Linked DNA regions of Homo sapiens. The protein of the gene in region 1 purifies or fractionates together with the protein of each later gene. This does not show direct contact. Each region holds a gene or a part of one and is shown on either strand. Other genes may lie near its edges.

Region 1 (12,554 bases):
TGGGGTCTCTCACAGCGGCCCCTGCCCATGGACAGATGGACTGACCCACAGGCATCCACATGTGGTGCTGAAGAAGCCGTGAGGAAAGGGGGAGGTGGGAAGGGCCTCGTCCAGGGTGTCTGGCTGCACAGGAGACATAGCAGCTCCCACTGGCACCCTGCATACAAGGGAAAGGCCTCGAAATGCGCTCACCAAAGCCTCAGAGTTTTATTATCAGGAGCTCACATTCAGGTACAGATTCCTATGAAGTTTGCCTCACCTGGAGGGAAGAGGGAGAGAGCAGGGCTGGCTGAGATGGGGCTGCCAGAGGCATGGTCTCCAGCTGGGTAAGCGGGATTCTGAGAGCCCCTGGTGCACACGGAGCCTCCTGGCACACACAGGATTGTCTCAAACACAGAGGACCTCTGGCACACTCAAGGGCACTGAATCTAGCAATGAGTCTGCACTTCTGTTATGAGAGTGGGTTTTTCGGCCAGGCGTGGTGGCTCACGCCTGTAATCCCAGCACTTTGGGAGGCCGAGGCAGGTGGATCACCACGTCAGGAGTTCAAGACCAGCCTGACCAACATGGTGAAACCCCGTCTCTACTAAAAACACAAAAATTAGCTGGGCATGGTGGCACACGCCTGTAATCCCAGCTAATCAGGAGGCTGGGGCAGGAGAATTGCTTGAACTTGGGAGGCGGAGGTTGCAGTGAGCCGAGATCGTGCCACTGCACTCCAGCCTGGGTGACAGAGCAAGACTCCGTCTCAAAAAAAAAAAAAAGAGAGAGTGGGTTTTTCTCAGGTCTTCTCGGTGCCCAATTCCAAATGTGGCTGTCTCCTCTGCAGGAGCAGGTCTGCTTGTCAAGAGTCCAAGCACGCCTGTGTTCTGTGGCCACAGGAGAGGAGGGGCCGCTTTTAAATACAAGCCTACTCCTGTCGTTGGACCAGAACAAAGACCTACTGGCCAGAAGCACATGAGAGGTGAGAGTCGCCCTTCTGCCTTGTTCGGCATCGTGTGTGTGCACCTGTGTGTGTGTGTCTGTGCAACTGTGCATGTGTGCACATGTGTAGCACACCTGTGCACGTACATGTGCCTGTGTCGGTGTCCATGTATATGGCTTGCATGTGTGTGCTTGTGCACACGCAGGAGTGTATGTGTGTGCCATGTGAGTGCCTGTGTACATGTGCAAGAGTGGGCTCAGGTGTATCCACATGTTCATGGTATACCTCGGCCGGTCCTAGACCTAGTATCAGACTCTGCTGCTCCTCACTGGCATAAAGGCAGACCCTGAACTGGGCATGGGGACACAGATGGGTAACACGCAAACCACAGGGCCCTGATCCGGGGGATGCTGGCCAAGCCACGGGCAGTGCAATGCAGTATGGCAAAGGAAGGTTTCCTGTCCACAGTGCCCCTCAAGGCAGGGCCCCCCAGGAGCCCACTGGCCAGGCCCAGAGGTGGGGTTAGCTCTGCAGTGTGAACTCATAGGTTCTGGTCTCCCAGTGGGAGAGGTCCTTGTCCATCATGCTACGCTCAGTGAAGGTCACGTGGCCGTCCGCATCTACCAGGATGATAGTGTTGGTTCTGAAAGAGAGCAGGGGCCCTCGTTCACCTGGTGTCCCTCAGCCCTGCCCTGCCTGTCACAGCCACAAATAGGGCAAGAATGCAGGCAGGTAGAGTTAGGAACCCCATGCCTGGAGGCTGTGCCAAGTCACAGAGAGCAGCAGCCTCAGTCTTGGGGATGATGAGGGGCCATCAGTGGCGTGTGAGCTCTTGGCTGGCTCCACAGGCCCACACTTGCTGAGTCCTGCCACCTTCACTGGGAACCACCCCACCCTGCCCTGCTCTCCCCGTGTAGCATGAGCCAAGGCATAGGGCAGCCTGCGGGCTGACCACACACTTCCCCTTTGGAGGCCCAGGTTCCCAGACACAGCCATGCTTGGTTCTTCCAAGAGGTCAAGCTGTTGACCACTTGGGGCCCAGGCCTCCTCTGTCTGGAAGGCTTCCCTCCTGTGCCCTCTCTTCCACTGCCCAGGCCATGCCAGCCCACCTGAAGCAAACATTCAGCACACTCTCCTCTCCTCCAACCCTCTCTGCCGTGGGCTTTGCAGACGGAGGGTGGCCCTGGATCCCCCAACAGCCCCAGCACAGGCTGGTTCCCAGGGCAGACACATACGCAGTGCACCCCGTGGGGTGGGACCCAGCGGCTATGCGGCCTGCCAGGGAGTGGAGTTGGCACTTGCCTTCCCCTCACACACAGGAAGATGAGCCTATGACAGAGGAGGGGCTGAAGGAAATGACACCCTGCACCTGCCAATGGGCCAGCCAGCCCCAGGCAGGAAAGGCTGGCCAGCAGCCACCACCCAAGGGTACAGCCTGCAGGCCTAGTGCCATGGTGCCGGGGCGTTTGCCCGCAGGGATCCACCAATGTGCAGGCAGCCCTGAAGCCATCCTGGCCCTGTGTGGCTGTGTACTGGCTCCTTAAGCCCAGCCTGTGGGGCCCCGGGAGCCTGTGGTATCTGCTCACCCTGCAGCTGCGTCTGGACAGGGCAGAAGCTCTGGAATCCACTCAGGCGAGGAAGAAGCCTGGCTCTGGCTATGGGCACTTGGCTTCTTTGCCGGCCCTCTAGCGTGGGAGGTGGGACATGGGATAGGAGGTGGCGCACCCACGGTGCTGCAATACCTGGTGCCGTAGCCAGGGCAGCGCACGCACACAGCCGCGTACTTGCTCAGCATGGGCTGCACGTACTCCCCACCCTGGTCCTCGATGGCCGGGTCTGGCAGCTGCCTGCAGGATGGAGAGAAGTGGTGGCCATTAGTCCCTCTGTGGCCCGCCCGCAGCCGGGTCTAGCCCCAGCCCACCTGGTGGCCTAACTGGCTCTGGGGAGTGGCCGGGGAACTGCAAGGGTTGTTTCTTTTCTTCTTTTCTTTTTCCTCTTCTCTTCTCTTTTCTCTTATTTTCTTTTTTTGAGGAGGAGTTTCACTCTTGTCGCCCAGACTAGAGCGCAATGGTACGATCTTGGCTCACTGCAACTTCCACCTCCCGAGTTCAAGCAATTCTCCTGACAGAAGTCCACTCAAGCCAGCCATTGTAGCTAGCATCGGGGCTCCAGCCGTCAGCTGGGATTACAGGCGTGCACCACCCAGCCATCTAATTTTGTGTTTTTAGTAGAGACAGAGTTTCACCATGTTGACCAAGTTGGTTTTGACCTCCTGACCTCAGGTGATCCGCCCACCTCGGCTTCCCAAAGTGCTGGGATTACAGGCGTGAGTCACACACCAGGCGTGTTTCCTCCACGTTTCTGCTCAAGGCGGAAAATCTCCATCTACCCTTAACTTATGACTCAATCGTGGAGCTTTGGCCCCAGATGGCACATACAAGCTCCCTGCCTGCCCCAAGAGGTGCCCTGTGGGCATTTGCCTCTGTGACAGAAGTCCACTCAAGCCAGCCATTGTAGCTAGCATCGGGGCTCCAGCCATCAGTGAGGGCAGCCAGGGCCGGTCCTCGGCCTGCCCCAGATGGCACATTGATGGGGGCTGTGTGGACTTACAGCTGGGAGGGGCTGCTGGGCATGCCCAGGTGGGGCTCTTCCAGTGAGGCAGCGATGCTGAGGCTGAAGGACGAGGCCGCCTATCAGAGGCCCAGAGGAGAAGGAGGGTAGGCAGGGGGCAGAAAGGGGCCCCAGGGGGAGGAGTGGGAGATGGTCCATGGGTGCTTCTCTGAAGGGGGCAAGCTGGACAGGGTGGGAGTGGACGCTGGATCACCTGGGCAGGGCAGTGGTCTGACCTGGGTGGGGAGCGAGGGATGGGTGGGGCATCTCGCCCAGTGGGAGAAAGGCTGGCATGGCAAGCACCAGGACCCCCGGCTGGGGCAACGAAGACCCCAGTGCCTGGCCCCTGAGGGGCCTTGAGGCCTACGGGCAAGGAAGTGGGTGGGAGCTCCTACACCCAGGCAGTTCCCGGAACTGCAAGTCCCTGCCCAGCACTCAGCCCAGGGTCGCTGGGGACAGACCGCTTGCGGGAAGCCCATCAACCCTGAGCGTGCTGACCCTAGCCACTCATTTCCATGATGTGTCTCTTCCGCCTGGGTTTGCTGAGTGTCTAGAATCTTCTGGAACTTCCCACAAGCTCTCGGCATGCAGAGGGGAGCATCCATCTGCTCTGGGCCCCACGTGGCTGCATCAAGCCTCTGGGTGCACTGAGCCTCCCCTGGGCCTGGGCCTGGGCCTGGGCCCATCTTCTGTCATCAAAAGTCCCTGGTGTTGGAAACCTCAGCTGGCTCAAGGGGACAGGCAGGGAGGACAGGATATCCATCAGCTTCCCTGCAGCTGGGGACCCAGCCTGGCCACTTCCATGGGCCTCCCGGGGCAGCAGGGCCTGCCTTTCCCTCTGCCCTGGTGGCGGGACACTGGGGCTCACCCCAGCAGGACCCGCCCACTCACGCCTCTTCATTGTTGAGCACATCCAGGAGGCTGGCGATGAGCACATCCTTGGGCAGCGCCTGGCTCCGTTCCACAGCCTCCAGGAAGAGCTGCTTCCCAAAGCACAGCTTCCTCCAGGGAGTCTCCAGCAGCGCGTTGCTCAGCCCGTAGGTGCCTGTGAGGAGCAATCAGCGGGCCATGCAGAGGCCCTGCTGTGCCATGTCAGGGCAAATTGCCACCTGCCACCCACCTAACACGGGGTACAGCTGGGGACCATGAAATCAGGCCAGACTGAGGCCAAGCCGCTCCATGCTCCAGCTCCTTCCCCATGCTCATTCCTGACCTGATGGCATGGCAAGGAGAGGAGAACTCAGCAGTAGGCGGAAGCGGGCACCCACAGGAGACCACAAGGCACAGATGCCCAGCAGCCTCGATGGATGGATGAATAAGAAATGAGCAACCTGAGATCTCACAGGCAAAGGGGACAGCCAAGAGGGAACCTCTTCACCTCACGCCAGGTTGGGGGGCCACCTGAGAAGTTCAAGAGTGGGAGAATTAGCCACCAGAGGCCAGGAGGCACCCACCACAATCATGTCCCTGTTTGGGGAACCCCCAACAGCGCCACACAGTGGGCACAGGTGTAGGCTGGGCCTCAGCAGAGCATGGCCCACCTCTGCGTACCAGCCAGGCCCCAGGTTAGGAGAGCCGGGGGGCTCTGCACAGACTCTGAACAAGCTCCCAGAGTGTTGGCAGAAGGCATGGCCAACAGGAAAAGGGTTTCTCATGTCACAGAAAGTGAAGGGCAGGGACTTGAGGTGGAGAAGCACCTCACCTCAGAGGCTCTTCTCTAGAGGCCAGGGCAGCAGGGGTGGGCTTGATGGGAGCCAAGCACCCCAAATGATGCACCAGGGAGACCAAGACACCACCCTCTCCCTGTCAGACTTCCAGGAGAATATCTTGGCCGAGGCATTTCCCAGGGAGACAGCCTGGCTCTGCTGGGGCCCCCAGAGCCAAGCCGCCAGCCCCAGGTGTCACAGTGCTTTTTCCATCATGAACAACATGGAAGACCATTGAACTGCATAGTCATGGGCAAAGAAGGGAGTTGGACTCTACCTGACACCATACACAAAAGTTAACTCAGGTCAAGAGAGGTGGCTCACTCCTATAATCCCAGCACATCGGGAGGCTGGGGCAGGAGGATCACTGGAGCCCAGGAGTTCAAGACCAGCCTCGGCAAAATAGCAAAATAGTGAGGCCTTATCTCTACAAAACATAAAAGTTAGCTGAACATGGTGGCACACATCTGCAGTCCCAGCTACTTGGGAGGGAGGATCTCTTTTTTTTTTTTTTTTTTTTGAGACGGAGTCTTACTCTGTCGCCCAGGCTGGAGTGCGGTGGCGCAATCTCGGCTCACTGCAAGCTCCACCTCCCGGGTTCACGCCATTCTCCTGTCTCAGCCTCCCACGTAGCTGGGACTACAGGCACCCGCCACCACGCCTGGATAATTTTTTGTATTTTTAGTAGAGACGGGGTTTCACCGGTTTAGCCAGGATGGTCTCGATCTCCTGACCTTGTGATCCACCCGCCTTGGCCTCCCAAAGTGCTGGGATTACAGGCGTGAGCCACCGCGCCCGGCTGGGAGGATCTCTTAAGCCCAGGAGGTTGACAGTGCAGTGGGCCATGACTGCACCACTGCACTCCAGCCTGGGTGACAGAGCCAGACCCTGTCTCAAAAAAAAAAAAATAGTTAACTTAAGTCAAACCAAAGACCTAAGTGAAAGAGCAAAAGCTATAAAACTCTAAGAAGAAAGTATTGGGGAAAGCTTCATGACCTTAGATTAGGCAATGGTTTCTTAGATAAGAAACCAAAAGCATGAGCAACAAAAGAAAAAAAAAGAGAGAGACATAGGACTTAAAAATTTTAAGCTTTGTGCTTTAAATAAGAGACTTGTAGCTAGAATGAATGTATAAGTCACTCCTATAACTCAAAAAGACAACCCAGTCTGAATAACCATTTCTCCAAAGAAGACATACAAATGGCCAACGAGCATGAGAATAGCTGCTCAACATCATAGCCATCAGAGAAACGCAAACCAAACCACGAGTCCACACAACTTCACACCCACTATCGTGGCTATCATCAAAAACACAGAACATAGCAAGTTTTGGTGAGGATTCAGAGAAGCTGCAACCCGCATACACTGCTGGTGGGAATGTATAATGCTGCGGCTGCTTTGGCAAACAGTTTGGATGTTCCTCAAAAGGTTAAACAGGGTTACCATACGACTTAACAACTCCATTCCTACGTATTCACATGAGAGCCATAAAAACATATGACCACACAAATGCTGTGAGGTCACACTGTGAGCAGCACTGTTTCCAACAGCCAAAAGGTGGAAAAAACTCAAGTGTCCATTAATGGATAAAGGGAAGAAACAAAAAGTACCAACTGGCTCGAGGGTTCAGGGCAGCTGTCTCAGCAACTCCCTAAATTCCTACAGCTACAAGAAAAACCACAGTCTTGATAAACTCCCTCACAACAGTAGAGATCACACACGTTATCAGACCCTCCTAACTCTTGACAGCCCAGACCACCACAACCCTGACTGGACAGAGAACCAGCCTTCAAACACTCTTTTCTGATAAGCAACTACAGACCATAAGCCAGTTTCAGCAGTTCATAGAGGCTGCACTCCAACTGTGTCCTAGAGCTCACCTTCTGATGGAAAGATCCAGATTCTACCTCATTTTAATGCTAAAACCCTGCCCCAAAGTGAACATGGGATGTATGTTACATGTATGTTTATCTATTGCATATGTTCTCGGGTCCCCTCATAAATATGTATGGCTTTTCCCCAAACCTGCTGAATATGTATGACTCTATTGTGTGATATGGACCTTGGGAGGCATAAAACTCAAACTGCCCTTCCCCTCTTCAAAGAGAGCACCTCAGTCCATGCTAGAGACTCTCTCTTCCGGGTCTGCAAACTGATATGGCAAATAAAACTCTCCTTTCTATCATTTAGCCATGCTGGTGAGTTTTTCTTTGTTTTTTTTTTTTTTGAGATGCAATCTCACTCTGTCGCCCAGGCTGGAGTACAGTGGCGCGATCTCAGCTCACTGCAAGCTCCGCCTCCTGTGTTCACGCCATTCTCCCGCCTCAGCCTCCCAAGTAGCTGGGACTATAGGCACCTGCCAACACGCCCGGCTAATTTTTTGTATTTTTAGTAGAGATGGGGTCTCACCGTGTTAGCCAGGATGGTCTCGATCTCCTGACCTCGTGATCTGCCCGCCTTGGCCTCCTAAAGTGCTAGGATTACAGGCGTCAGCCACCGTGCCTCGCCACTGGTGAGTTTTTAGACGACAACACTAAGTGAAAAAAGTCAGTCCCCTAAACTACATATTATAGGATTCCCTTTATACAAAGTGTCCAGAATAGGCAAATCCAGAGACAGAAAGCAGATTAAAGGTTGCAGGCGCTGAAGAGACGGGGAATGGGGAGTGGCTGCTGACAGGTATGGCTTTCTTTGGGGATCAAGAAATGTCCTGGAATTAGGTAGTGATGACAGTTGCTCAACTCTGTGAATGAAACGAAACCTACTGAATGATACACTTTAAATGGGTGAACTGTGCCGCTAGTCAGTCATATCTCAATAAAACTTTATCAAAAAAAAAAAGGCAATGTGGACCAGGTGGGGCAGGCTCAGGGATGAGGCAGGATGTAGACAGAAATAAGTTCTACAGAACAACAACTGAGCAGAAAATAAGCATCTCCAGCCACGGAGGTCTCAGCCTCTGAGAACCGAGGATGCCACGTGGATGGTTACAGCGACTGCCCCAGAGGCCGCTGGGCCAATGTTCACAGTGAGGGGGTGGTAGGGAGTCTCTGACTGCTTTTGCACCTTTTAGTTTCCAATTCTCTCCTGGGCAGTCACAGGCTCAGCATGGCCCAACTCCACTGCCACAGACCTACTTCGCCACACATTCCAACCCCACGACCCTCAACTGATGCGGAGGTTCTGGGGCAGGTGGAACAGCAAGAGCTGGCTGAGACAGCCAGAACAATCCTTTGCAAGCTCAGGACCTTCTGGGGCCACATCCCTGCCTCGCTGGTAGTCTCTGTGTCTGTGCCACTGCCCAGCTCTTGGGAGCTCAGGTGGGCTGCCCACAGTTGTATCCAAGGTAGGGAGGGGAAGACCAGGGTCACAGAGGGTGGCCGGAAGGATAAGCCCCAGGTGGAGGAGAGGGCACCAGCTGGTAGGCGTGGGGGCAGTGGGTGGGACACACTGGAAGCCACCCTCCAGGCAGATGCCTCCTCTGGAGATCCCAACTAGCCCAGGGGTTCGGGTCTGGGCACCACCCTAGCAAATGGGGGCTGGGCCTATCTGTGGATGAAACATCACTGGGCAGACGTGGGAAGCTGGAAGCCAGCTCCAGTGTGGGCCAGGCAAGGACCACAGGACTCATGATGAGCCCGTCAGCACCACCAGCCCCCTAAGATGCAGGTGGGATGGGGCCACTCAGCTGTCCTGGGGACTGCTTATCATCTCCCTCGGGCCCCTCCAGGGACGCCTGGGGCTTCAGTTCCACCGTGTACACCCAGTGGGAAGGTGTGCACCTGTGACCTGCAACCTCACTTGGTGATTTGTGCCAAATGCAAAAGAAAGTCTGTGTGACGTGGGCATGGAGCTTCAGAGGAGCCAGGGGTGTGAGGGAGCCCCCTCACAGAGGGGTGTGGGTGGCGCTAAGGGCACTGACACACTCCCCAGGCGCCGGAACACCCTGTGTGAGCCAGCAGCTTGAGTAGAGGGACCAGAGCGGGCGTTTAAGGCACAGAGTTCCACGATGCCACCAGCGAGGAGTGTCTGTGGGCAGCGAGTGTGGGAGTGAGTGAGCCAGCAGTCCCCGGAACCTAGGCTATGGTCCCTACAGTTTTGTGCACCCAGGGGAAATGCCATTTCCCAGGAGTGCTGCTTTGTCCTGGCACCAGACCTGGGACAAGATGCAGACCTCCCTCCCAGAACATGGCTGCAGAGGGGGGCAATGTGACACATTCTCTCCAGGTTGGGGCACTGGCAGAGGAAGCTTCCAGGAAATCGCAGCACCCGAGGAGGGGGAAAGGAAGGGCATGTAGCAGGAGGCACAGCCTGGGCAGTGGTGCAGAGCCAGGGCAGGAAGGGCCCAGCCGTGGAGTGTGACCTGGCGCAGAGGGGCTCGAGGCCCTGAGGATGGGGACCGGGGATCAGACTGGGGACTGGGTGCAGGAGGCGTGCATCTGTGTGGGGCTTGAGTGGGGTGTGTACTTGTGCGTCAGGGAGCAGACCAGGCAAGAACCCCAGGTGGTGATGGCTCCAGAGGTTCTGAGAAGGAACAGGCACAGGGCACACTGGGACGGCACAGGAAGTGAGGCTGGGGGTGGCCGGCTGGGCTGCAGGGCTGCGGTGGGAAGCCCAGAACAGGGGCGCACCTTGCTCAGCAGGAAAAGCCCATGGGGAGGGGGTGAGCAGGGAGCCAGGGCTCTCTGAAGTGTCCAGGTGCAGGGCAAGGTGCCCACAGACCATAAGGCACTTAAATGGCCACAAAGTCATCTCAGAAGAGTAATATGACAAGTGCCTGGTCTCTAAAAAGCACAAGGGTGACCTCTGCATAGAAACAGTCCCCCACCCCATCAGGCTGCCAGGGCAGGCTCACCTGGCGTCAAAACGATAGGATCAGGCTCCCCTCGGTTCCCATAGTAGCAAATGACGTCTCCCTTTGCTGTGCTGCAGGCCAAGGGGAGAGAATGTCAGACTACAGCCATAGGGCGTCCTCCCCGACACTGCCCGGTGATCTCACAGCCCTGTTTCTGGAGGCTAGCGATGTGCGCAGTAGCCCGCTGCGGCCAGGTCAGGAGCTTGCAGGACCCAGCCCCTCAGGTGCCTGGCAGGCGGGGTCATGGAGGCCCCAGCTCTTGTCCAGCATCACGGGTATGTTCCCAGCTCACCTCGGGGCCCACCAGCCCAGGAGGCACAGGATCTAAAATGCCCTCCTGCCATGCCGAATGCCCCATGGCATGGACACACAGAGGCTGCCCATGGGGACAACTGCAGGGCTGAGCCCCATCCCCACATCACCAACCTCTCCATCAGGCCCCTTACCACAGCTCATCTATGAGGGTTTCTGGACAGGTGGCCCCAGTGTGGCCCCAGGGTGATCGAGGCTTCCAAAGAAAGCGCCAAAGACCACATTTTCCTACTCTCAAGTGTTAAGTGTACACTTTAAAATAGTTAAGGGACAGTAGAGCTGGGCATAGTGACTCATGCCTATAGTCCCAGCTAATCTGGAGACTAAGGAGGGAGGACTGCTTGAGGCCAGGAGTTTGAAACCAGACTGGGCAACATAGCAAGACCCCATCTCTACAAAATAAATAAATCATTTTTTAAAAAGAAAATAGTTCAAAATGCTCCCCAGCTGAAAATATTCCAATCCTCAATACCACAGTAAGTCTTCTAGAACTTGGAGTGCCTTTTTTGCAAAGTGAAGAGGATCTCTTTGTGGCCTGTGAGATGCCCTCCCAGGCCAGATGCTGGGCATGGAGCCCTGGGCCTTCAAGATGGAACAGATGCAGAGAAAGAGCCAGGCATGGTGCCTTCCTCCCCGAAGTGCTGCCCCCAGGTGGGACCCACCTTCCCCACCCCTGGTAGGCTTCAAGGGCCCCCCCGTCTATGTTCACATTCCACTCCCGTTCTTCCTCACCATGGTCTTTGGCAACTTTCCTAAGATACTTGGTTCATAATTTCAGAGACTGTTTGCAGGCAAAAATCTCCTCTGGGCTTTCTGTGTAAGGACCTACAGAACTGGACACCCATGCTGCCAGCACTATACCACAGGCCAGGCGGAGGGCAGGCCTCACCCAGGGATAGCTGTGGCCATGACAAGCCTCTCTCCCTTCCAGGCCTTGGCTTCCTCATCTGCACCTACCAGCAGGGCTGCTCACTGACCTCCGATGCCCCCGCCCTCCAGCCTCGGCCCTGGCACCAGCTTTTGCCTGACCTGTGGTATGCTCTCCTGGCCACTGCCTGTATCCTCAGGCTAGGTCCAGGAGGCTGACCCTCACTCTGCAGCCTTTGGAGCCGGGAGAGTTGCACAGGCTCTGAGGAGCCCAAACCCCCAACCCCCAACCACAGGAGCCCGTGTATCTGCTCAAGGCATGGCACCCTTGGCACCCCACCTCCACACAGCTGCTGAGTGCCAAGTCCTGCTGGTGCCACGGCCGCAGAGGAACTCTCCTGAGACTAATCAGACCCACATGGAACTACTGACCGGGAAAAGTGGTTCCTGAGCATGGGGGCATGCAGAGAGCACAGGGGCTCTGCCACCTGGAGTCACGAAGGCATGGGCAGGAAGAACGGCTCCGGACAGCAAGTGCCCCGCACCAGCCCTCGGCCTTCCACCTAGGGGACACTGCAACTCTCCCAGCCTCCATAGCAAGTGTGCAGACCCATGTGGGGCAGGGCTGGGCATGCCACACACAAGGGATGCTCAACGAACAGCAGGCCTGGAGCTCGGGAGCCAGGAGAGAGGCCCATGGACCTGCCCTTGTGGAAGGAGGCAGCTTCAGGGCCCGCCACAATGTGCCGACCACTTCCCGTTTGCCTGTCCTGGCAGAAGGCCCCGGACTAACAGCATTGGCCAAGTTCTGGGGCTTTGGAGGGGGAGGAGGGCAGGAGGGAGGAATGCTCACTTCACGGAAGGGCAAAACACCAAAACCTCCGCAGTTCCTGCGGCCTCATCTCCAACAGGAGCTTCCCTGGGAGCACAGCATCCCAGTCACTCCAAGCCAGGGCTGCGGAGGGCTGCTCTGCACAGCCTGCCCGTGGGAGGGAGGACACCCGGCCAGAGCCACTCTATGTGACTGTTCTTCACAGCCTCAGCTTTCTCCAGGGATCCGGCAGCCCTCATGCCATCACAGGAAGCCTTGGGCTTCACCCCCAAATACCCGAGTTGGTACATCTGTGACAGGCTCAGTCCTCAGAATGTTTGCCAAGTCACGAGGAGCAACGTCCCTGGAGAGGCTGCCACAGCCCCCAGTGGAACCCCACTTCCTGATGAGCCTGAGGCCTGCCCCCGAGGCAGTGCTGGGCAGAGCCGCCATCCCCCTCTGGCAGAC
Region 2 (12,554 bases), on another chromosome or scaffold:
ATATTCATTCATACACCTATTCACCAGACATACTGAGAGCAAACAATGTACCAGGCATAATGCTAAGGACTCTAAAAGATGCAAAGATGAATACAAGCTATCCTGTCCTCCAGGAAAAAACAGTAAATTCAGTGTGTTGTGAGACCAAGGATTTGTCTACATGAATGCCAAGTAATACATGTATTCATTTTCAGTTCCACAGTCACCAAATATAATCACTGTATTTATTCATCTTTGGAAGGACATGATTAAGAGCACAGCCTGTGGGAAAAGAAGTACACTAATTTTAATAGAGTATCTTTCCAGGGACTAATGGTACATTTTGAAACTAATACAGCTAGCTTTTATTTCCACAGGCAATATTTCACAAATGAGATTTGAAATTATTAAAAAATTCTAAATAGACATCGAATGACCCCAATTTGATACCCAAATCTCAGAAATGCTGGAAAAATCTAGACCATATAGGCATTCAAGGGAAAAGCATTTCCATAGAGAAACAAACCCCTACTGTGTACAACATTTTTCACATTCAAGCTGCTTTTTATGTAAGCAGTTTGGAAATTTGTATTAGATTATCACATCAGGGTAAGAGTAACTTCTCAGTGCAAACTGAAAAGGCCTCTCTCATAACAAGGATGCTAAGTCTGGAAAAGGTCCACAGTCCAACTGTCTACAATTCCATTCAAGTGTCATGAAACAGACTTTCAGAATTTTTTTTAAAAAATCCAGAGCCTAAATATATCCTAATTCTAAATCAAGAATCCATTTCTCTATTGAAAAGAAAAACCCACTGATAAAACATAAAACCAAGGAGGTAAACATGAAACATATATCGAACAGAAAGGCAAACTATCTAGTGCTGTACCGTCTATTACGGGCACCACTGGCCACAGCGGGCTGCTGAGCACCTGAAATGTGGCTAGTCCAAATTGAAATGTGCTGTAAGTATAAAATACAGACCGAAATCCAGAGTATGAAAAAAAACATAGAATATCTCAATAATTTTTAATAGTGGTTAATATTTTGGCTATAATGGGTTAAATAAAATATATTATTAAAGACAATTTCATCTTTCTCTTTACTTGTATAATGTGGTTTCTAGAAAATTCAAAATTACATATGTGGCTTGCATCCTATTTCTATTGGACAACATCGATTCAGTTTTTGCTCCCCCGTAAGGCATCAGAATATGTAAAGAAAACTGAGTTATATCTTCTTCAGTGATTTTTGCTCACAAATATCGTAAGAATAGGCACTTACAACCAGTAGAATGGAATTTGTGCACAGTACTTTCTATATTCAAATTATATCTTATTTAAGCATTTTAGGAATGTGTACTGGTTCATGCTATTGCAGTTCAAGCTTGGATGACTTTACAGCTGTCTGTCCTGCGTTCTCGAAAGCCCACCCTCACAGGGCAGACGTTTAAGCCTGTGATCCCGCTCACACTTCCACATCTCATCAGTTAGCTGGATTTTCCAGGAGGAATTAGCTGTGAAGCCTTCTGGGCTCCTCTCCTCAGACTGTGTGTAACTTACACTAAGACTGTGAGGTTCCAGAGGACAAGCCTCCAGTCTTGGTCTCATTTCTGCCCCACAGCATCTAGAATTGCTCTTTGCATAAAAGTAAATGCATGTGACAAATGTTGGTTACATATGAGTATCTGATGATTTAGGGAAAAGGAAGAATTTTTCCTCCTACTTTTTGTATTAGAGAAGTTTTAGTACATTAGACACTGACAGTCAACTGTGCTTCATAATTCATTTATTCCAATATCCCAGTGCCTGTTGGCTGCCTGGAACTGAGCTGGGGGCTGGGGATGTGGTGGTGAATAAGACAGGCACAGTGCTGAACTCATGGCGGATGAAAAACAAAACCACAAGTATGGCATGTGCCCCACTGAAAAGCAGCTGGGATTACAAGAGGGACAGTGACAGGGGAACCTAATGTGGTTGGAGCCAAGGAAGGCTAATAAGTGACCTTTACGCTGGACCCGAGGGAGCTGTTAGCCTAGCAAGGTGTTGGGGAAAGGGCAGGCTGACCATGCAGGGAGGGCCCCTTAAGCCATGTTAAAAATGAAAGTTAATCCTAAAGGCATGAAAAGCCATGGAAGGGTTTTACATAATATGACCAAATTTGCTTTTTAAAATATCATTCTGGAGATGGGCAAGAGTGGATGTAGGACCTTCACAGAGCATAGCCATGTATTCTTAAAAGCTAAACAAAATCACTTTGGTCATCACTTCAATAGGAACTGAGTTTTAAGAATAGAAAACATGTGTAAGCTCCACACCCCCAAGACGTGAAAGCCAGCAAGCACCCAGGAGCAGTAATCTAATACAGATGTACTCCCAAAGTACCCTCGAAGCATCAAATCCTACTGATTCCCCTGGCCTGTCCATGAACCCAAGATGTGAAAGCCAGCAAGCACCCGGGAGCAGTAATCTAATACAGATGTACTCCCAAAGTACCCTCGAAGCATCAAATCCTACTGATTGCCCTGGCCTGTCCATGTACCCAAGATGTGAAAGCCAGCAAGCACCCGGGAGCAGTAATCTAATACAGATGTACTCCCAAAGTACCCTCGAAGCATCAAATCCTACTGATTGCCCTGGCCTGTCCATGTACCCAAGATGTGAAAGCCAGCAAGCACCCGGGAGCAGTAATCTAATACAGATGTACTCCCAAAGTACCCTCGAAGCATCAAATCCTACTGATTCCCCTGGCCTGTCCATGTACCCAAGACGTGAAAGCCAGCAAGCACCCGGGAGCAGTAATCTAATACAGATGTACTCCCAAAGTACCCTTGAAGCATCAAATCTTACTGATTGCCCTGGCCTGTCCATGTACCCAAGATGTGAAAGCCAGCAAGCACCCGGGAGCAGTAATCTAATACAGATGTACTCCCAAAGTACCCTCGAAGCATCAAATCCTACTGATTCCCCTGGCCTGTCCATGTACCCAAGATGTGAAAGCCAGCAAGCACCCGGGAGCAGTAATCTAATACAGATGTACTCCCAAAGTACCCTCGAAGCATCAAATCCTACTGATTCCCCTGGCCTGTCCATGTAAATGTGTTACTTGGCATCAGGCCCTGTCCTAACCCAGGCCATATCTTGCTTATTCAGAACCAGCATTCAGTATCCACACTGGTTGGCCCAGCTCTAGGGTTCACTGAAAGGCTGAGTGGGCAAAGTATTTAGCAAACTGCACGAGTTTGGGAACATTCTTTGTGCTCTCCTGTGCCCAAGGACTGTCTCTCTGGGTGTCTGCCTAACTCTCAACTTTACCAGTTACCTGGTCTGGGCTCTATGGCCAGTGTCTACTCTCAGGGCAAGAAGCTGGTGGAGGGATGAAATTGTACCTGTTGTAAACAATTAAATGCAGGTTGTTTAAATTCTGTGGAATGATTACACAAAATTTTCGTTTTGTTCTGGACTCTTCTGGGTAGTACTTACTCATATATGTATGTGGCCTGCCCATACATAACTGTTTTTCTGAAACCAACCTCGAATTGCCTGTAATGGCCTTCATTGTTCTTAGTGGCAGATGTCCATTCAACTCTCAAATAGTCACAAAACCATTATATTGGCAGCCAATTAGCACATGCAATATTGTATTAAAAATGTCATTTCTAAACATTCAGATCTTCTCAATTACCTCCTCCTTTGATGTTTTTTATTAAAATAAAAATAAGCCTTAATCCCACAATTTCCTTTCTGAATTTCTCTGGTACTCTCTGAAAGGGAAGGACCCTTCACACCTAAATGAAATGGAGCCTACCCTTCTCAGAGGCAGGATCGTGCAACGTGAAGTGCAGAGACTTAGGAGGTAGTCAGACCTGAGTTCCAATCTTGTCTTCATCCCTTCCTAGGTGTATGAATGGGAAAGTTCCTTAAATTCTCTGACCCTTGTTTTTTCCTGAATAAAATGAGGCTAGCGTACTGGATTAGTTTTCTAGAGCTGTCATTTCAAATGACCACAAACTGGGCAGCCTCAAAGAAAAGAATTGATTCCCTCACAGTTCAGCATACCGGAAGTCTGAAATCAAGGTGTCGGCAAAGTTGGTTCCCTCTGGAGGCTCTGAGAGAATCCTTCCTCATGTCTTCCAGCTTGTGGTGGTGGCTCCTGGCATTCCTTTGCTCGTGACGTGTAACTTCAACCTCTTCTCATTCTTCACGTGGCCTTCTTTCCTGTGTTTCTCTGTGTCCTCTCCTCTTCTCATAAGGACACCCATCACTGGTTCTAGGGGCCACCCTAAATCTAGGAAGAGTTCATCTCAAGATCCTACATCACTACTTACATCTGCAAGGATTATTTCCACATAAGGTCACATTCCTTATAAGTTTAGTTCTGGATGGACCTGAATTTGGGGAGACACACAATGCAACCCACCACACCTACCTACAACAGAGCACAGTTCCATTATACTCAGGAAAACTGATGAGCTCCCACTGATAATTTGTGTTACAATGAATTTTTAGTCTATTTTCATACTAGAAATTCTTCAACTGTTTTTACTTTATATGGAGAAAAATGGTTACTTTTAAAGATGAGACAATGCCTCATATACCTAGCACTGCACTGAAAATGCATCAGTGCTCAATAAATACTATATTCCTCCTCCCACTGCCTTTCTCTTAGCCCTACAACCATGAGTTACAAGTACAACTCGTGAAAATCCCAGGAAATCATGGAGTACTTCAAGGTTCTAGGCAAAGATAAAGACCAAAACTTCTTGCCCCTATATAATGATTTCTTGCGGGGAAGCAGGGCGAGCAGTTCTCTTTCAGAACTTGACCTATGACAGTGGTTTAAACAGTAAGGAATAAATGTGCATCCAAGAGATCTTTGCATCTCTGTGAAAAACAGTGGTTACCAAGAAGGTTCTGGGTAAAAATAAGAAACCTGATTTTTGCAGTGCTTTGACAAATTTGCTAAGCATTTGAAAATGTATCTAGACCACTGTCAGTTAAATTCCTGGTTCCTATAGCTTATCACATTTTCTTCCATATTTTCCTCCCTCACATAAGCTCATTTCTAATGTGTTTTATGAACAAAAACAACAGCAACAAATATCCAGAAAGTTATTCCTACATAGTCTGCTCATCCTCAGAATAGCAGCTGGGCTGGTCATAGGTGAATAAGGATGGAAGGAAGCTGCAGCCAGCAGCAGGGGGCATAGAAAAGGAGCCAGCACTTAGTACAGCACACACCTGCTTCCTCTCAGCCCACACCCGCCCCCTTTTTTTTTTTTTTTTGATCACTTGTCCACTATTGCTCAGTATCCAAACTCATTGGGGCTGAAGCAGTTGTCTGCACCATCCTCTCTAGGACCATAAAATACACGGAACCCCAACCTGAAACTTGCAAAGAAACTAGCCTCAAGATTAAGGGGTATTCCAAATATTCACACATCTCACTTAAATACAACCAGCCTCACTTCCCGTTTCCGTGCCCTGTGGTTAGAAACTGACACACAGGAATGGTAATGAGGAGGTCTATCAGGTAGGCTGCTTTGCTTTGCTTTGCTTTGCTATACCTAGTGCCTACCGAAACTGCCCCAACTCTGCCTGGTCCTCTTATCAACATATAGCTCCGTTATCTCTATTACCACTTCTTTTTCTTAGAGTATAACAAGTTAGCAGGAACCAATGCTGATCTGTGATGTGCTTGGAGAAGAATCAGAATCAAGATCAACGCTCTGAAGACTTTGGTGATGCCCTATGAAGAAACCCTCTGTGTTTCATGAAAACGATTCACCTCCCTACTTTTTCACATCTTCTGGGAATCATTATATCTTACCTTAAACTATCCTAATTTTCCTTCTTACCATCTCTTGAAAGTTCAAACTGATAACAGTTTATAGCTACTCTGATATTATGTGTCACCTGAACTGTTTGCATACATTATTTGTTAAATATACCACAGTCAGATAAAATACCACAGATCTTCCAGTTACTTCAATGTGAGCTTTAAAAAGCCCTTCTCCCCAGTTAAAATGTGCTATCCATGAAGTCGCTAACCTCTCAGAAAAGTGGACCGAGGAAGCAACACCAAAAGAAGAAACACACCAAACTTAAAATGTCTATCAAAGAGAAACTAAAAGTTACCTCGAGGGATCCTTTAAACATATAAGATGATGCCTTACCTGGATTGGGTTGAAGGTATTCAATTGTTTTAGTCATTATTTCCATCACAGCCCTGCTGGTGACATCCACTTTCTGAAATGAGAAAATAAGTGCTCTAAATGACAAAAATGATGAGCTTTAGAATACCGGTTTTTGGTTGAGTCTGTATACAATGGCGGGGTATGCAACAGAGCCCCGGACAAGTCCCGCAGTAGGTGAGGGAGGCTGAGACGCGGCTGGAAGTCATGCTGACACTGTACTCAGCAGTGGTCTGCCAAGATGTGGAAAGCCCGTTTATCCAAAGAAGAAGCTTGTAGTTTCCTAAAATTTGTTTCAAAATATAATTCATTACCTTCTGGTGAAAATAAGGTGAATAAAATGAAACATATTTTGTCCCAGAGGCATTTATTGGATGCCTACAGTGGGTCAGGCATGGAGGCAGATTTTGCTGCCCTCAAGAAAGAATCATGCAGCATCAACTCTGCTTATTCAAGAAGTGGGGAGCTTTTTATTTAACTTCTAAGAACATCCTAAAAATATAAAATCTTGAGCAAAGACTTCTAGTCTGTCCTTGAACTTTTGGTTAATGCTAAACAAAAATCTTGATGCTAGAGTCTATCCTCCAAATTTGTTCTATCCTCTAAATTTCTAAATTTGGAATGGTCAGTGTTTGCCTTCAGCATCTCACCGTGTTCTCTTTGTCAGGCCCCTCTCCCCACTTGAAAGAGGTCATGGAAGGTGCTCACTGCAGTGCTCTCTGTCTTTCTCCAAGAAATCCTTTTCTTATCAGCATCTGTGGGCCTCCTATTCGCCCTACATGGTAAATGACTAATGAGAATAAATGCATCCTCCTATTCAAGGTATGTACATGTAATATATGACATAGGTATAAATGAAAGTGATTAAATTTTAATGTAGAAATTTAGGTATCAATTAAGTCCACTGGAGAAATTTTCTGTTTGTTAAAAGGCTCCCCCTTCAACTATGAGAAACTTTTCCATAACCTGCTGTACCTAGTGGTATATAATATATACCAGTATATAATATCAGTATATACCAGTATAATATCAGTATATACCAATATATACCGGTATATAATATATACCGGTATATAATATCAGCCTTGCATAAAGTAAGCCTCCTCCTTTTCCATAATCCACACATTAAAAGATTTTATCTTTCAGTTCAGTTTTTCAATACTTAATAATTTTTCATTCCATGGCAGTCATATTACTGTGTGTGTTTGCTATTACTAGGATCAACAGAGGAAAACAAATTTTTTCTTGTGAAGTTATAATGATATAAAATTATCTTTAGAAGGATGCAATTTCAAATGTGCCTGTCTACATATAAATCTTGTATAAATATCCTTTTGATTGATTCAAATTTCAAAGATCTTTAAGATTGAGTGTGTACCAGGTAGTGATTAGCTTAAAAATGCTCAGTAGCCCCCTGGAGTTGTGCAGTACACAACTTGTGAAGCCATATGTGAAGGTCCTAGTATTAGCAAAATTCCAAACAACCACTATGTACTCAAGTCATAGAATGTCTTATGCCAGGGAAATGGATCAAAGGTGTGTATGGAACAAATATGCTGAAACTCCATGGTACATGTGTGATAGAAGTACAAATGTAGATCTCCTGCTGCCTATGTGATGGGAATTAAGGAATTAGATGACAAATGTGTCTAAATATCCTGTAGTTATGATGAGAAGGAAAATCATTCAAAAAGCCAAGGTTTCTAAAAAAGAGTGCCATAGGAATTAAATTTTCCAATGGCTGTTTGATATCCTGATGTCATCTGCTGTTAAGGGGCTGACCAATTTCTAAGGTTCCCCCATCTCTGTCCTTAATAATTATAACAATCATCACCATAAGCTGTCTTCTGTTTGTCAGAAACTGTTCTAAGGACTATAAATATCTTTACACACTCAATGCTCACAAACTCTGTAATGTATATGAGAAAACAGATACAGAGGGGTTAAGAAACTTCCCCAGTTCTAGTTCCAGTGTGTGTGTTCTTAATGACCATCCTATACTTCTTGAAAGCAAAAGCTCTTCCTAAAAAGACAGGCAACAGAGGCATCTCCCAATCTGAAAGAGAGGCCAAGTCAGAGCTGGAATATGCTTTGTTCCCTCCCTAAGATGGGGCTGGGGACCTGGCAGTAGCCGGTGAAACAGCATCAGCAGGAAGGTACCTGCCATCCCATATTCTGTTTTTATTTTGAAACTTCTCAAAGTCTGTGGAAGCTTCATCCACAAGACTATTCCATCCTGGGCCTCTCTGGAAGGGAGGCTCTGCAATGCTGATCTGCTGAACCACAGGCCCTCAGTTTCACGGGTTTCCCTACAGAGACTGGTACCTGCAGTGTCTATCCCACCTGGCCCACAGGGAGGTGAGCAAGGAAGGCTGTGAAAGCTAGTTTCTCATTTTGGCTACAGAACCCCCTTCCCTTTTAAGCTCTGTGTAGGGAGCCCAACCACTCATGTAGTGTAAACAGACACCACTAGCTTGGCTGAAGCCAGTGGTCTCAGGGAAGACCCAGAGACCCTGGGGATACCAATATTAGATTATTACATTTGGTCCCCAGGGCAGGACTCCATCTTAAAAGAGAAGTAGGAATAAAAACTATTCCAGTGTCCCTTGTGACTTGTCTAAAGAAAGAGCTCATCCCACCCAGATGTTTACCGACTTTGTGCCCATTGAGGCAGACTCCTTCAACACTTTTGGTTACCTAGTCCAGGCATCATTACAGAGCAAGTTCTACCTAAACCCTTTTGACTACAACATAAAATAACCTTCGCTTGAAATCCACCACCTCTGAAAACAACTTTATTCAATACAGTTACATTTTTATTTCATTATCAGGAATTATACTAAAGAGGGACCCACTTTTGGCAAATCCATTCCTAGGCCCTTGCTACTGACTGCAATTTTTTTTTTTTTTTTTTTTTTTTTTTTTTTTTTGAGACAGGGTCTTACTCTCTCCCCCAGGCTGGAGTGCAGTAGAGCAATCTCAGCTCACCGCAACCTCCTCCTCCCAGGTTCAAGCGATTCTCCCTCCCCAGCTTCCCAAGAAGCTGGGACTAGAGGCACGCACCACCATGCCTGGCTAATTTTTGTATTTTTTGGTAGAGACGGGGTTTTGCCATGTTGGTCAGGCTGGTCTCGAACTCCTGGCCTCAAGTGATCCATCCGCCTTGGCCTTCCAAAGTGCTGGGATTACAGGCATGAGTCACTGCACCAGGCATGGCTGCATTCTTACAGATAATTACTTGATAGACTTCATGGACATAAGAGGAAGAGACCAGGGGAGCATTCTGTTTAACGCTTTAATTTATTAAATGTCCACACCTGTGGCCTAGAGAAGGGAAAGGAGCTCTTTAAGTGTGTTATGAGGAGAAAAGTAGTTCCCAAGGCCATTAATCAGAGGCTTTCTTTAAAAAAGTACCAGAAGAACTGAATGGTCCAATGATTAGTCACATTCTGAAGTCATCTGCCAGTAGGAGGCTGACTAATTTCTAACTTCTCTCCACCTCGGTCCTCCATAATAATGCCCAGGACTCTTTTGCTAAACTACACTGTGTCAGCCAGAGACAAGCTGAGGGCCATAACCCCATGAGACCCCTGAATGTGCCTTGTTATGCACTTGGCAGAAGAGTTATTTATATACCTAAGCTGGTAATATCCAAGTACATATTCTCTTAGTAACAGGCCTGATTAACTTAGCATAAAGAAGATTTCCACTTAAGTAACTTATTATAACTAGCAATTCCCATAAGCTCCCAGAATTGAGCTTATTGCCATTTGAGAACAGTACAGTTTAACTTTGAACTTATGACATGTAACTGTTATTTTTCTCAATGTCCAAAATTTCCAATTACTATTTGAAAGTAAGTTTTGATGCATCCTAAATTACAAGAATTTCTCATCTTATAAGCTCCTGAGCCTCCGTCTTCAACTAACCTTGCCTGGGATTGGTGTGAGGAGCCATTAGGGAAGGCTGTTTAAAGAAAGTGAAACTGTTCATATCCTTCGCCCACTTTTTGATGGGGTTGTTTTTTTCTTGTAAATTTGTTTGAGTTCTTTGTAGATTCTGGATATTAGCTCTTTGTCAGATGAATAGATTGCAAAAATTTTCTCCCATTCTGTAGGTTGCCTGTTCACTCTGATGGTAGTTTCTTTTGCTGTGCAGAAGCTCTTTAGTTTAATTAGATCCCATTTGTCAATTTTGGCTTTTGTTGCCATTGCTTTTGGTGTTTTAGACATGAAGTCTAATGCCTTGCCCATGCCTATGTCCTGAATGGTATTGTCTAGGTTTTCTTCTAGGGTTTTTATGGTCTTAGGTCTAACATTTAAGTCTTCAAAAAGGGGGCAAAGGATAGGAACAGACACTTCTCAAAAGAAGACATTTATGCAGCCAACAGACATATGGAAAAATGCTCATCATCACTGGCCATCAGAGAAATGCAAATGAAAACCACAATGAGATACCATCTCACACCAGTTAGAATGGTAATCATTAAAAAGTCAGGAAACAACAGGTGCTGGAGAGGATGTGGAGAAATAGGAACACTTTTACACTGTTGGTGGGAATGTAAACTGGTTCAACCATTGTGGAAGACAGTGTGGCAATTCCTCAGGGATCTAGAACTAGAAATACCATTTGACCCAGCCATCCCATTACTGGGTATATACCCAAAGGATTATAAATCATGCTGCTATAAAGACACATGCACACGTATGTTTATTGCGGCACTATTCACAACAGCAAAGACTTGGAACCAACCCAAATGTCCATCAATGATAGACTGGATTAAGAAACTGTGGCACATATACACCATGGAATACTATGCAGCCATAAAAAATGATGAGTTCATGTCCTTTGTAGGGACGTGGATGAAGCTGGAAACCATCATTCTCAGCAAACTATTGCAAGGACAAAAAACCAAACACCGCAAGTTCTCACTCATAGGTGGGAAATGAACAATGAGAACACTTGGACACAGGAAGGGGAACATCACACATGGGGGCCTGCCGTGGGGTGGGGGGAGGGGGGAGGGATAGCATTAGGAGATATACCTAATGTAAATGACGAGTTAATGGGTGCAGCACACCAACATGGCACATGTATACATATGTAACAAACCTGCAAGCTGTGCACATGTACACATACTCTAGAACTTAAAGTATAATAAAAAATAAAAATAAAAAAAAGAAAGTGAAACTGTAAATATATACAGATACAGGCATGTTTTTTAGGTAATAAAAACTTCCATTTCTACTTCTTTAAATGGTTGAAAAAATTTGAAATGAGACTACTATTTTACTGCACAAAATAATTATTCAAATTTCAAATTCACATTTCAGCATCCTTAGATAAAGTTTTGTTGGAAAACAGCCATACTTATTCATTTAAACGCTGTCAATGGACGCTTTTGTGTTTTGACAGCATTGGCAAGGAGTTGTAAGAGACCACAGAGACCCTCTGGCCCCAAAAACCTAAAGCACTTACAAAAAAATCTTGATTCCTGTGCTAGGTGCTAGCTTCACTAATAATAATGCCATGCTGAATCTATAGATGATACTGATTATTTCACCAGCTGTCTCAGTCTTTAGAGACAAGATACTAAAGAATAGAAGGCATGGAAATGACTAGAATGGGGTTACTCTTCCAGAGACATGGGAATATTACCTTTCTTCCCTGAAGAAAAGTTGGTATTTCCTGAACTTAGGTGTAAGGACTCGTGAACAGCGTGGCGTTGTTTGTGGAGCAACAAAAGGACTGAAAGATATGATTTCATACTATTAGATACCACATTATACCAGATGCTGTAGCAGAGCAAAAGTTTAAGAAAAACATAGACACCTTAAAGGGAGCACCAACACTTTGTGAGTTTAGTGATCATTAATATATAAATAAATTCAGTCAGTCATGGTGGCCCATGTCTGTTACCCCAGTGCTTTGGGAGGCCAAGATAGGAGGATTGCTTAAGGCCAGGAGTTCAAGACTAGCCTGGGAAAAAGTGAGACCCCATCTATACAAAAGATTTTAAAATTAGCCACAAAGATACAACAAAAAAGAAAACTTCAGGCCAAGGTCCTTGATGAACACTGATGCAAATCCTCAATACAATGCTGGCAAACCAAATCCAGAGGCATGTCAAAAAGCTTATCCACCATTATCAAGTAGGCTTTATCCCTGGGATGCAAGGTTGGTTCAACATATGCAAATCAATAAATATGATTCATCACATAAACAGAACTAAAGAAGAAAAACACATGATTATCTCAATAGATGTACAAAAGGTTTTCAATAAAATTCAACATTCATTCATGTTATAAAGTCCCAATGAGCTAGGTATTAAGGGAATGCACCTCAAAACAATAAGTGCCATATATGACAAACCCATATCCAA

The links.
Region 2: the proteins of TANGO2 (region 1) and SH3GL2 purify together in Homo sapiens (affinity purification with mass spectrometry; 3 studies listed by BioGRID and IntAct, with this or other methods). This does not show direct contact.

Annotation. Positions count from the first base shown.
Region 1 is NC_000022.11:20,053,556-20,066,109, reverse strand, and holds part of TANGO2 (transport and Golgi organization protein 2 homolog), read right to left. Parts: intron 10,168-12,554; coding exon 10,097-10,167; intron 4,937-10,096; coding exon of another isoform or gene 4,875-4,936; exon of another isoform or gene 4,621-4,874; intron 4,615-4,620; coding exon of another isoform or gene 4,581-4,614; coding exon 4,427-4,580; coding exon of another isoform or gene 4,423-4,426; exon of another isoform or gene 4,404-4,422; intron 3,616-4,403; coding exon of another isoform or gene 3,536-3,615; intron 2,773-3,535; coding exon 2,668-2,772; coding exon of another isoform or gene 2,512-2,667; intron 1,569-2,511; coding exon 1,448-1,568; 3' UTR 1-1,447. UniProt on the Homo sapiens protein: May be involved in lipid homeostasis.
Region 2 is NC_000009.12:17,755,110-17,767,663, reverse strand, and holds part of SH3GL2 (endophilin-A1), read right to left. Parts: intron 6,228-12,554; coding exon 6,155-6,227; intron 1-6,154. UniProt on the Homo sapiens protein: Implicated in synaptic vesicle endocytosis. May recruit other proteins to membranes with high curvature. Required for BDNF-dependent dendrite outgrowth.